Regions from separate parts of the Homo sapiens genome. Here region 1 is linked to region 2. A link means that fine-mapping ties the variant in region 2 to the plasma level of a protein whose gene starts in the linked region. Region 2 holds a variant in brackets. A gene starts in the other region. All regions are shown on their reverse strands.

The links. A credible set is the group of variants that fine-mapping cannot tell apart. PIP is the posterior inclusion probability: the model's chance that the variant is causal. Protein levels are from antibody-based Olink assays in UK Biobank. Linkage for the fine-mapping came from a reference panel and not from the study's own genotypes, which makes the PIPs less certain.
Region 1: VEGFB starts here. The variant in region 2 is the best candidate, but not a certain one, in a credible set for the plasma level of the VEGFB protein (UK Biobank, PIP 0.61).

What each region holds. Positions count from the first base shown.
Region 1 is chr11:64,232,260-64,236,968 of GRCh38, reverse strand. VEGFB (vascular endothelial growth factor B) reads right to left here and starts at 2,385. Exons shown (of 7, transcript NM_003377.5): 1 at 2,076-2,385; 2 at 1,469-1,511; 3 at 960-1,156; 4 at 642-715. The coding sequence starts at 2,135. It overlaps DNAJC4 (DnaJ heat shock protein family (Hsp40) member C4), which reads right to left. Exons shown (of 6, transcript NM_005528.4): 3 at 4,355-4,539; 4 at 4,104-4,265; 5 at 2,989-3,075; 6 at 2,688-2,896. The coding sequence ends at 2,785. RefSeq lists silencers at 1,758-2,127, 2,348-2,837.
Region 2 is chr1:21,832,736-21,839,611 of GRCh38, reverse strand. HSPG2 (heparan sulfate proteoglycan 2) reads left to right here. Exons shown (of 97, transcript NM_005529.7): 73 at 62-241; 74 at 527-787; 75 at 2,606-2,810; 76 at 3,975-4,072; 77 at 4,667-4,933; 78 at 5,687-5,796; 79 at 5,998-6,145; 80 at 6,228-6,344. Among named protein-coding and RNA genes, the nearest start is that of LDLRAD2, 24 kb to the right of the region's middle. The variant G/A (reference allele first, on the strand shown) is at 4,711.

The sequences.
Region 1 (4,709 bases), not on the chromosome of region 2:
TGGGATTACAGGCACCTGCCACCATGCGCGGCTAATTTTTGTATTTTTTTTTAGTAGAGATGGGGTTTCACCATGTTGGCCAGGCTGGTCTCAAACGCCTTACCTCAGGTGATCTGCCTGCCTGGGCCTCCCAAAGTGCTGGGATTATAGGTGTGAGCCACTACCCCCGGCCCAAGCATCCTACTTTGTTGCCCCAGATCCAAGGCCTACCCTTGGCTCTACTCTTTTTTTTTTTTTTTTTTTTTTTTTTTTGTGGCAGAGTCTTGCTCTGTCGCCCAGGCTGGAATGCAGTGGCACGATCTTGGCTCACTGCAAGCTACGCCTCCCAGGTTCATGCCATTCTCCTGCCTCAGCCTCCGGAGTAGCTGGGACTACAGGTGCCCGCCACCACGCCCGGCTAATTTTTTGTATTTTTTTAGTAGAGACAGGTTTTTACCATGTTAGCCAGGATGGTCTCGATCTCCTGACCTCATGATCCGCCCGCCTCGGCCTCCCAAAGTGCTGGGATTACAGGCGTGAGCTACCACGCCCGGCCCCTTGGTTCTACTCTTAGGAACCTGGTCCCCAGTTCTGTGGACCACCATACCCAGCACCCCCCAAGCCTGGCCTCTGCGAGCTCAGAAGTTGGGCCTGGCTGGCACCTGCATTCACACTGGCTGTGTTCTTCCAGGGACATCTCCCCCAGCTGACTGCTCGGGTACCGGATCATGAGGATCTGTGCTCAGGAGAAGAACAGGGGGGACAGTGAGGGAGAGAGAGAAAGGGGATGCTCTAAGACTGAAGGGAGAAAAGCTCACCCAACAGCCGGGAGGCTGGCCACCAGCCCTCCCCCCAACCCTGTCTCCTGTGCATCAGTCTCCAGGCTGCCCCAGCCCCAGAGCCAGCCAGCATCCACCCTGCCCGCTGCCCCACCTGCCCAGTACCTGCATCCCCTGCCCGTTGCCCCACCTGCCCAGTACCTGCATCCGGACTTGGTGCTGCCCAGTGGGCACACACTCCAGGCCATCGTCAGGGCAGCAGCCACCACAGCGCTGCACAGTCACGCAGCTGGGCACCAGCTGTTTGGCCACGGTGCCCATGAGCTCCACAGTCAAGGGCACCACCACCTCCCGGGGCTGGCAGGTAGCGCGAGTATACACATCTATCCATGACACCACTGGGAGCAGACCGGTAGGGGTTAAGTCCTCACTGGTTTTCCTGCAGCTGCTCCCAGCATCTGTCCTCCCCAGTCCCCAAGTCACAGCCACCCTCCACTAGCCCTCCCCACTCTGCCCTCACAACCTGTCTTCCCCTGCCCTGTTTATCCAGATCCCAGTAACCCCACTGCCTCAATTTCCTCCTCTGTGAAATGGGTAGAATAATAGTTTGAATCTTCTAGGGGAGTTACACAAGATGATGGACACCTGGAATCAGGGCCCATGACAAACCCTCTTAGTGCTGGCTAGTGCCGAGTTTTTGTAAGTATTACCTTTCCTCTGGTGGCCAGGGGCATCAGGCTGGGAGACAGGGGCCTGTGGGAGAGAAAAGACCTGTACCCAAGGTACACTTTAGGAGGGTGTGGCCCTGTCACCGTCCCTGGGGCTTTGCCCTTGCATCAGTAGGCTTCACCACCTCTCTGACATCTTTCCAGATTGCTCTGTTCCTGCGGCCACTGCTCTAGCTTTACCTGTCCTCTCCTGGCCACCCGGGACCTGCCCTGGCCCAAAACGCAACAGGTGCTCTGGTGGCCGCGCCAAATCTCCAGGCCGCGGAGCCGAGCATGTTTGGGGGCTGCATGCAGATCAGGAGCGCGCACAGTGCCCACCGAAGCAGGTCCTGCAGGCACCGAGGGAGCCCCGCCCCCGGCGGTGCCCAGGGGACGGGGTGGGGCGGAGGAGTGGCCCCAGACTGGGGCTGGCGGGCCAGCGGGGAGGGGCACCTCCCAGGGGATGCACGCGCCGGGCCCCCGAGACGCCCGCGTCCAAGGCCGGACCCCGCAGATCCCCTCGGCCGAGGCCGCGGGTCGCCTCCTCACTTCCGCCAACCTTGAGAGAGGGCACGGCGGGCGGGCGGGCGCGCTGTCGGGCCGCACGTACCTGGGCGGGGGCCAGCTGCAGGAGTGCGGCGAGCAGCAGGCGGCGGAGCAGAGGGCTCATGGTGCCCGCCGGGGCCGCCCGCCGGGGGCGCCCGCATCGCCCTAGCCCGGCGGCGCGGGGGGCGGCGACAGCCAGAGCCCCATGGCGCGGGCCCGGGCGCGGCGGGCGGGGGCCGGGCGCGGGGGGCGACTCCTCCGCGGCCCCCTCCCGAGCCCTGGGTGCAGGCAGCGCAGCGCAGCGCAGCGGAGGCGGCCGGAGGAGCCGGGCGGGCGGGCGGCCGGTGGCGGCGGGCAGCGGCGGCGGGGACGGCGGGGGCGGCGGGGGGCTGGGCCCGGGCTGGCGGGCAGGCGGCTCATGTGACCCAGACACGCGCTCCCCACCGGCCCGTGGGGCGGGGGCGGGGCGGCGGGGTGGGGGGGCGAGGCCGTCGGCGGGGCCCGCCTCCTCCACACACCCCCTCCCGCCTCCCGCCGCGGCAGGGGAAAGGGGACGCACCGCCCAGGAGGCTGGGCTCCCCAGTCGCCGCCGCCACTACCCGGAGGGCGGGGCGCTGCCCCTTGGCGAGGCCGGGGCCGGGGGCGTCGGGCCTTAAGGAGGGAGCCGGACACGAGCTCTGCGAATCACTTTATTGCGCGCGTTTCGGGGAGCGGGCCGTCCAGGGAAGGAAGCAAAGCGGGAACGCACTGCAGGCCCCATCCAGGTGAGCCCCTCAGGGGCCGGCGCCCCGGGGCACGATCTCGGGGCCTTGGGTTGGCTCGGATGGTGGCGGCTGCCGCTGCCCTAGCCGTTGTCGCTCCTGCTGAAGGATGCCTCTGTTGGCCCTGGAGGAGAGGGCACCTGGGTGGTTGGGATAGGGATCCCGAAGTGTGGTTCCTGGACAGGGAGCAGGGAGCAGAATAGAGCAGGGACAGACCTGGCCCGTGCCCGGGCTTCGTTGTAGAAGGCTGTGATGATCCGATCCTTTTCATCCATGAAGTTAAGGTGCATCTGCTTCACCTTCCTGCAATGGGTCACAATTAACCCTGGGAATCCAATTCCTGCTGTCCCTGAAGTCCTGCCCCCTTCCACCCCACTCTAGGGGCCTCACAGCTTTTTACCCTTACACAGGGTTAGGAACCTCAGTCTAACCCTTCCTGTGATAGATAGGGAGGGCTCAGAGTGGCCCTGGCTTGTCTAGGGTCCAATGGCATCCGAAGTCCCTGGTCACTTTGAGGTGTGACAGCAGCTGTGGACATGGGGGTGCTCCTCCCAGAAGACTAGAAAGGGTATGCGTCTAACTCCATCACTGAACTAGGCAGGCTGCTAGCAGTGGGCACTGGCCTTTAGGTATCTGCTATAGAAAATCGGCTTTGTGGCCAGGCGCGGTAGCTCTCACCTGTAATCCCAGTACTTTGGGAGGCTGAGGCGGGTGGATCACCTGAGGTCAGGAGTTTGAGACCAGCCTGGCCAATATGGTGAAACCCCATCTCTACTAAAAATACAAAACAACTAGCCGGGTGTGGTGGTGGACGCCTGTAGTCCCAGCTACTCGGGAGGCTGAGACAGAAGAATTGCTTGAACCTGGGAGGCAGAGGTGGGGTTGCAGTGAGCCGAGATTGCGCCACTGCACTGCAGCCTGGGCAACAGAGTGAGACTCCATCTCAAAGAAAAAAAAAAGAAAAAAAGAGAATAAAGAGAATCAGCTCCGTGGCACGCGTGAGAGTGGCAGGGAGATGCCTACTGCCAAATGAATGAGCTGTGCTGCATTTGCTGCTTGTGCTTGATTTTGTTTGGCTCAATCCCTTCCTGGCAGCCAGCATGAAAGATTTACATTCGAAATATGAAAAACTGTAAATGACAACGTTAGCTCTTGGTGCAGCGCTGCCTTTAATAAGTAAGGAGAGGCTCCAGAGACCAACTTCAAGCAGCTCTTAGCTTGAGAGACACAAGAGTACGGGCCACGAGGTGCTGTGGAGGACTGGCTGACCACACTGGAATTCACCCACCCTCCTGCCCTCTGCCCATCACCCCGGGGAGAACAGGCATCACCTGAAGGCAATGTAGTGCAGGCCCATGCCCGCCAGCATGAGGAGGAGGCAGTACCCCAGCACTTGTTTGTTTTGTTTGTGTTGCTGCTGCCTCAACTGGGGCCCCTGTGGCCTCACGCTGTGAAACTGGGACCAGTACTGTGCGTTGGGGGGTGTCCAGGAGCTGCTGGGAGGCAGAGGAAGGGACATTGTGGAAATGAGACTACCCAAGAGACCTGGGGGTGGGGCAAGCTGAGGGCAGGATTACTGTACCTGTGTGTTTGGTGGGCAGACTTGTCATGGACTGTGGTTCGTGGAGACTTTGGGGGACTACCTGAGCGGAGCTGGTCATCATAGCTGCGGCGGCTCTGCTCACGGCTGAGCACACGGTATGCCTCGCTCAGCTCCACAAAGCGGCTGTGCAGGCTTGGGTTCCCAGGGTCCCGGTCTGGGTGCAGCTGGGGTGGGGCAGGACTCCCCTTATCTCCCTTTGCCTGTCCCTCCCCAGGACCCATGCTGATGACATCCACCCACCAGGGCTCCAGTCATACCCAGAGGCCCTGCCTGGTCAGTGACCCTCACTCAGGCCTGCCCACTCCTCAGAAGGCCAGAGAGCATGGACTCCTGC
Region 2 (6,876 bases):
ACCCTCTGCGGGTCCCTGAGGTAGCCCAGTGACTTCTGTCATCTTCCACTCGACTCCACAGGCAGCCCCGCGCCCACCATCCACTGGTCCAAGCTGCGTTCCCCACTGCCCTGGCAGCACCGGCTGGAAGGTGACACACTCATCATACCCCGGGTAGCCCAGCAGGACTCGGGCCAGTACATCTGCAATGCCACTAGCCCTGCTGGGCACGCTGAGGCCACCATCATCCTGCACGTGGAGAGTAAGGCCTCATCCCTTCTTTGTCTGCACCAAATGGAGATCTGAGCCCCCCGACTAGGCTCCACCCCACACAGAACCCCAGGAACCCCATCCAGAGGTCTCCAGGCGCTGCAGGGTCCTGGAGCCTGCCCTGCCCGACACCCACACCCTGGCCTGGGACCTTTGCTTTCCTTATCCCCAGTCCTCTGGGCTCACCATTCAGCTTCCCTGGACACTGGATCCAACGACCTGCTGCCATTCTGACCTTTGCCCTCCCCAATCCTGACCTCTGTGTCCCCCCACTCAGGCCCACCATATGCCACCACGGTCCCAGAGCACGCTTCGGTGCAGGCAGGGGAGACGGTGCAGCTCCAGTGCCTGGCTCACGGGACACCCCCACTCACCTTCCAGTGGAGCCGCGTGGGCAGCAGCCTTCCTGGGAGGGCGACCGCCAGGAACGAGCTGCTGCACTTTGAGCGTGCAGCCCCTGAGGACTCAGGCCGCTACCGCTGCCGGGTCACCAACAAGGTGGGCTCAGCCGAGGCCTTTGCCCAGCTGCTCGTCCAAGGTAAGCAGCCCCGGCTCTGCGTGGAAGGGGATCACCTTTCCTCCTGGCCCTTTGATGACCCAGCTAGGCAGACTCGGGTGGGAAGGCCTCCCTCCATAACCCCACCTGGAATGCCCTCATCTCCCCTACTCTCCAGGGCCCGAGGCAGGCTTGCCACCTCCAGGAAGCCCTCCATCATGTGTGCTCAGCTCCTCTAGCTCTCACGGCTGCTCCCCACCTTTGGCACAGCCCTGGCACTGCCAAAGGAAACCATTCTGTGTACATAAGCACCCCAGCCTGCCTCCCCTGCCAGGCAGTGAGAATGCTCAGGGCAGGGCCTGGACCCAGGCATCTCAGCAGCCCTGGGCTTAATTGAGGGCAACAAGGCCCAGGATGGGCTGGGTAAATGCTTGACAGGGACAACAGTGAATGAGTGACAGGAGCACCCACCCCAGCACGCCCAGGGCTTCAGTGGATCTTCAGAGAGCCCAGCATTTCCATGGCCTCCTGCATCAATGATACAAATGAGGGCTTTTGGGCCCCAAACTTAAAGCAGCACAGCATGTAGCCCACTGGTCAAGAGCCTGGACTGTGGACTCAGACCTGGGTTCAAAGCACAGCTTGGCCATTTGCTGGCTGTGCAACCTTGGCCAAGTCACTGAACCTTTTTGAGCCTCAGTTTCTTTCTTTTTTTTTTTTTTTTTTTTTTTGAGACAGAATCTCACTCTTTCACCCAGGCTGGAGTGCAGTGGCATGATCTCGGTTCACTGCAACCTCCATCTCCCGAGTTCAAGCCTTTCTCGTGCCTCAGCCTCCCGAGTAGCTGGCACTACAGGCACGCGCCACCACGCTTGGCTAATTTTTGTGTTTTTAGTAGAGAAGGGGATTCGCCATGTTGGCCAGGCTGGTCTCGAACTCCTGACCTCATGTGATCCACCCACCTCAGCCTCCCAAAGTGCTGGGATTACCGGCGTGAGCCACTGCACTCGTCCTGAGCCTCAGTTTCTTTATCTGTAAAGTGGAGAGAACAATGCCAACCATGTAGGCTGAGTTGGAAAGGTACACAGAGGTAAACACAGATGTAAAACTGTGGCTCGCAGTAGGCACTTAGTAAATGGGGACAGTATGCATCAGCCCCCGCCTCCCATCTGTCCCCTGCATGTGTAGGTGTCTTTGCCATGGCCAAGTCCCTGGATTCTCTTATTTAAACTGCAGGCAGAATAGGCTTTGCTGTCCTTCCTTAAAATGTCTGAGTATGGCCGGGCGCGGTGGCTCACGCCTGTAATCCTAGCACCTTGGGAGGCCGAGGCAGGCAGATTGCCTGAGCTCAGGAGTTTGAGACCAGCCTGGGCAACATGGTGAAACCCCGTCTCTACTAAAATACAAAAAAAAAAAAAAAATTAGCCAGGCACGGTGGCGCACCTGTAGTCTCAGCTACTCGGGAGGCTGAGGCAGGAGAATCGCTTGAACCCGGGAGGTGGACGTTGCAGTGAGCTGAGATCGTGCCACTGCACTCCAGCCTGGGAACAGAGCGAGACTCCGTCTCAAAAAAAGTATTGAGTCCCTCCCACTCTTTTCGTGGCCTGCCCTCCCCACCCAGAAGCGAGGAGCTGTGGAAACAGAGCCCAGCGCTCCACAGGCCCTTATCCATGTTGGTGGAATGGCAGCTGTGTGTGCAGATGAATGAATCTGCCACTGAACGGTCTTTTTTCCCTGGTCAGAGAGGCTATCAGGAGAACATTCCTTGAATGTTGGGCTGGGGGTTTCCTGGGTCCCTGGAGGGGCATCAGGGACATCACACACACATATACCTGCAGAACCTCATACATGTCCCCGCAGGCCCTCCCGGCTCTCTCCCTGCCACCTCCATCCCAGCAGGGTCCACGCCCACCGTGCAGGTCACGCCTCAGCTAGAGACCAAGAGCATTGGGGCCAGCGTTGAGTTCCACTGTGCTGTGCCCAGCGACCGGGGTACCCAGCTCCGTTGGTTCAAGGAAGGGGGTCAGCTGCCTCCGGGTCACAGCGTGCAGGATGGGGTGCTCCGGTGAGTGGGGCCGGGGGCAGGACTGGACTTGGGCAGCATAGCCCAGGGCTCACAGTGAGCAGAGTTAAAGCACCTGCCCCAGGGGGCGCAACATGAAGCACTGTCCTTGGACACATCACTTTACCTCTCTGAGCCTCAGTGTTCTCAGCTGTACAGTGGGTTATATAAGACTGAATGAGGTCCAGGCACGGTGGCTCATGCCTGTAATCCCAGCACTTTGGGAGGCTGAGGCGGGCAGATCACCTGAGGTCAGGAGTTTGAGACCAGCCTGGCCAACATGGTGAAACCCTGCCTCTACTAAAAATACAAAAAATTAACTGGGTGTGGTGGTGGGCACCTGTAATCCCAACTACGCTGGAGGCTGAGGCAGGAGAATCACTTGAACCCAGGAGGCGGAAGTTGCAGTGAGCCAAGATCGCACCATTGCACTCCAACCTGGGTGACAAGAGCAAAACTCCATCTCAAAAAGAAAAAAGACTGAAAGGAGATTGTCTGAAGCACTTGCACAGTGCTTGGTGCTTGGAAGGCCTTCAGTAAACAGTGGCCCATTCATATTTATTATTAGCGGAGGAAAGAGAACAGGCCCTGGGGCCAGAAATACACAAATGACCCCAGATCTCAGCTCTGCTACTTGATAACTGTGTAATCTTGAGCCCTAGACCATAAGGTCTTTGTCTAAAATGAGTGTGGTGCCCCCCAACCTGCCTGCCTACCTCTAGTGGTTATTGGGAAACTAGAATGCAACACTGCGTGCTGTTCTACATCAGTTTTTAATGCCCACACAATTGCAAAGCATTCTTTTTTTTTTTTTTTTTTTTGAGATGGAATCTTACTCTGTCACCCACGCTGGAGTGCAGTGGCGCAATCTCGGCTTACTGCAACCTCCGCCTCCCGGGTTCAAGCGTTTCTCGTGCCTCAGTCTCCCAAGTATCTGGGATTACAGGCGTGTGCCACCACGCCTGGCTAATTTTTGTATGTTTAGTAGAAACAGGGTTTCACCATGTTGGCCAGGCTGGTCTCAAGCTCCTGATCTCAAGTGATGCGCCTGCCTCAGCCTCCCAAAGTGCTGGGATTACAGGCGTGAGCCACCACGCCCAGCCCAATTGCAAAGCATTCTATCAGTTGTTTTCAACTCCCTGATGTCTTATTATTTTTTCTTTATAGAATCCAGAACTTGGACCAGAGCTGCCAAGGGACGTATATATGCCAGGCCCATGGACCTTGGGGGAAGGCCCAGGCCAGTGCCCAGCTGGTTATCCAAGGTAGGAGGGTGGCTTCAGGCCTCTGCTAAGAGCAGGGAACAGAGATGAGAAAGGCAGAGAGGCACAAGGCCCAGACCCTGTTCCCTAGGAATCCCCCTAAATGTGTCAGAATAAAGAGAATTATTCCATTTTGCCTTGCTTGTGTCTAGCATAGAGTAAAAGGGGCTTGATACATATTTCAAGGGAGGGAAGAAGGATATGGATGGAGTGTGTGAGTGCTCAGATGAACCGATGAAGATTGAATCAGTGTGAACCGGGCATGGTGGAACGCACCTGTAGTCCCACCTACTCAGGAGGCTAAGCTGGGAGCATTGCTTGAGCGCATGAATTCTAGGCTGTGGTGAGCCGTGATCACACCTGTGAATACAACCAAGACCCTTTGTCTAAAAAAAAAAAAGAAGTGGACACGTGAGTGAGTAAATGCATAAGACCTGACAAGTGAGTGTGTTTGTGAGTGAATGCATGAAAAAGTGAATGAGGAGTGAATGAATGCTGGAGCTTCAGTGCTCACCTTTCCTTGGGCAGTCTATGGCCTCCCTCGGGCCAGGCCTGCAGTGACTGATCTCACTGGACCTCTGCCTCCCTCCTCCCCAGCCCTGCCCTCGGTGCTCATCAACATCCGGACCTCTGTGCAGACC[G/A]TGGTGGTTGGCCACGCCGTGGAGTTCGAATGCCTGGCACTGGGTGACCCCAAGCCTCAGGTGACATGGAGCAAAGTTGGAGGGCACCTGCGGCCAGGCATTGTGCAGAGCGGAGGTGTCGTCAGGATCGCCCACGTAGAGCTGGCTGATGCGGGACAGTATCGCTGCACTGCCACCAACGCAGCTGGCACCACACAATCCCACGTCCTGCTGCTTGTGCAAGGTGAAGGCCAGTGGGGACTTTTGTTGGGGGACAGTGAGTGGGGCAGGGGCTTCTCCTGCTGCCATCTTCTGCCTGCCCGCTCTGCTCTTCCTTTCTGTTCACTTGGGACATTTTCCATTGTGTGTGTTTAAGGGGCAGGTTTCATAACAGGTGGCAGCAGCAGGGGATAAAAGTGAGATTCCCCCAGGGCAGCCTGGAATGTACAGGGAGAGAGCTAGGCCATAGAGCATCAAGAAGAAAAAAGAAACCTTGTCCTCATCTGCAGGGAGTGCCTGCTCTGCTGGGAGAGACCTGCAGCATAGTCTGAGGGCAGAGACATAACCCAGTCAACAAACAGACCTAATAGAGAGTAAAACAAGGACAACAGATGCAGGGCAGACACAAACACTGTGTGTTCTTTAAAGGCAATTCCTTTTTACCCCAAGCCCTGTGACTTGCCTCCAAACTTCCTTACCTATACTGCCCCTAGTGTGCACTTCTCAGGTCCCCAAAGGGCTGCACAATTTTTTGCCCAGGCATGTTGAAGAGGTCTCAGGCTGTGGAGTGAAATGGATCTGGCCCTGAACCCTGACTCTGCCCGACCAGGAGCAAACAGCCGCTTTTCCCCTCTGAGCCATAATTTCCTCATCTGTGAAATGGAATGTAGTGGCTTCCTTCAAGGGGTGGTGTGAAGATGAAATGAATCAGGGTGCAGGCTGGGCACATATCTGTGACTGTCATGTTGATGGCCTATGTCTCTTCCATGCCTCTCAGCCTTGCCCCAGATCTCAATGCCCCAAGAAGTCCGTGTGCCTGCTGGTTCTGCAGCTGTCTTCCCCTGCATAGCCTCAGGCTACCCCACTCCTGACATCAGCTGGAGCAAGGTAAGTGCTGGAGAGGGAACCAGCGGGCATGACTTGGGGGCTGGGAACAGATCTGAAGCGTCTCAGTGTCCCCAGGATGTGGCACAGGCTTGGCCAAGAGCAAACGCTCAATGTTGGAAGGTGGGCCTGAGGCACAGATGGGAGGTGGGCCCCTGGAGCCGTGGGCCAAGGCCAGGGCCCTCAGTGCTAGTGCATTTGCAGCTGGATGGCAGCCTGCCACCTGACAGCCGCCTGGAGAACAACATGCTGATGCTGCCCTCAGTCCGACCCCAGGACGCAGGTACCTACGTCTGCACCGCCACTAACCGCCAGGGCAAGGTCAAAGCCTTTGCCCACCTGCAGGTGCCAGGTAAGACACCACCCCTAAGAATTGGCAGTGCCCTGCCCACTCCCTGACTGGCAGGGTCTTCAGCTGTGCTCTCTGCTGGCAGAGCGGGTGGTGCCCTACTTCACGCAGACCCCCTACTCCTTCCTACCGCTGCCCACCATCAAGGATGCCTACAGGAAGTTCGAGATCAAGATCACCTTCCGGCCCGACTCAGCCGATGGTGAGCAGGAGGGTTAATTTGCGGGGTGGGCTGGCCTGGGTTGAGGGACCTCGTGGAGTAACTGCCATCATGGCAGGAGCCCTGGCTGCCCCTCAGTCCTGCCCCAATCCCTCAGCCCTCCCTCTCCAGAAGCCCCCAGACCTCTGGGCCTCCACCCTGGTGTGCCTTCTCTTGTGCCTCCCGGCTTCTCCATCCCTGCCTCTGTGATATCTCCAGCCTCCTCGTGGCTCCTCTGCCACCGGGGCATCACCCCCAGTCCTCCTGTCCCAGCTTCCTTTCCCCATCTCTGCTCCTTCCTCCCTCCTCTGCCTCCATCTCACCCTTTCCTCCTCTCTTTCTCTCGTCTCTTACGGGTCTCTGACTTTCACTGTCCAGGCCTCCTTCTCTACTCGGGTGAGTCTCTGCCTCCCTCTCCCCCTTGAGGGAGACTCCAGTGTGTGTGAAGCAAATTCAGTTTCTTTCTAGGGGCGCTCAGTAAGGCCCTTGCGTTTGGGGCACCAGCCCTGAGATAGTGAGAAGGCCCTGGCTGTGT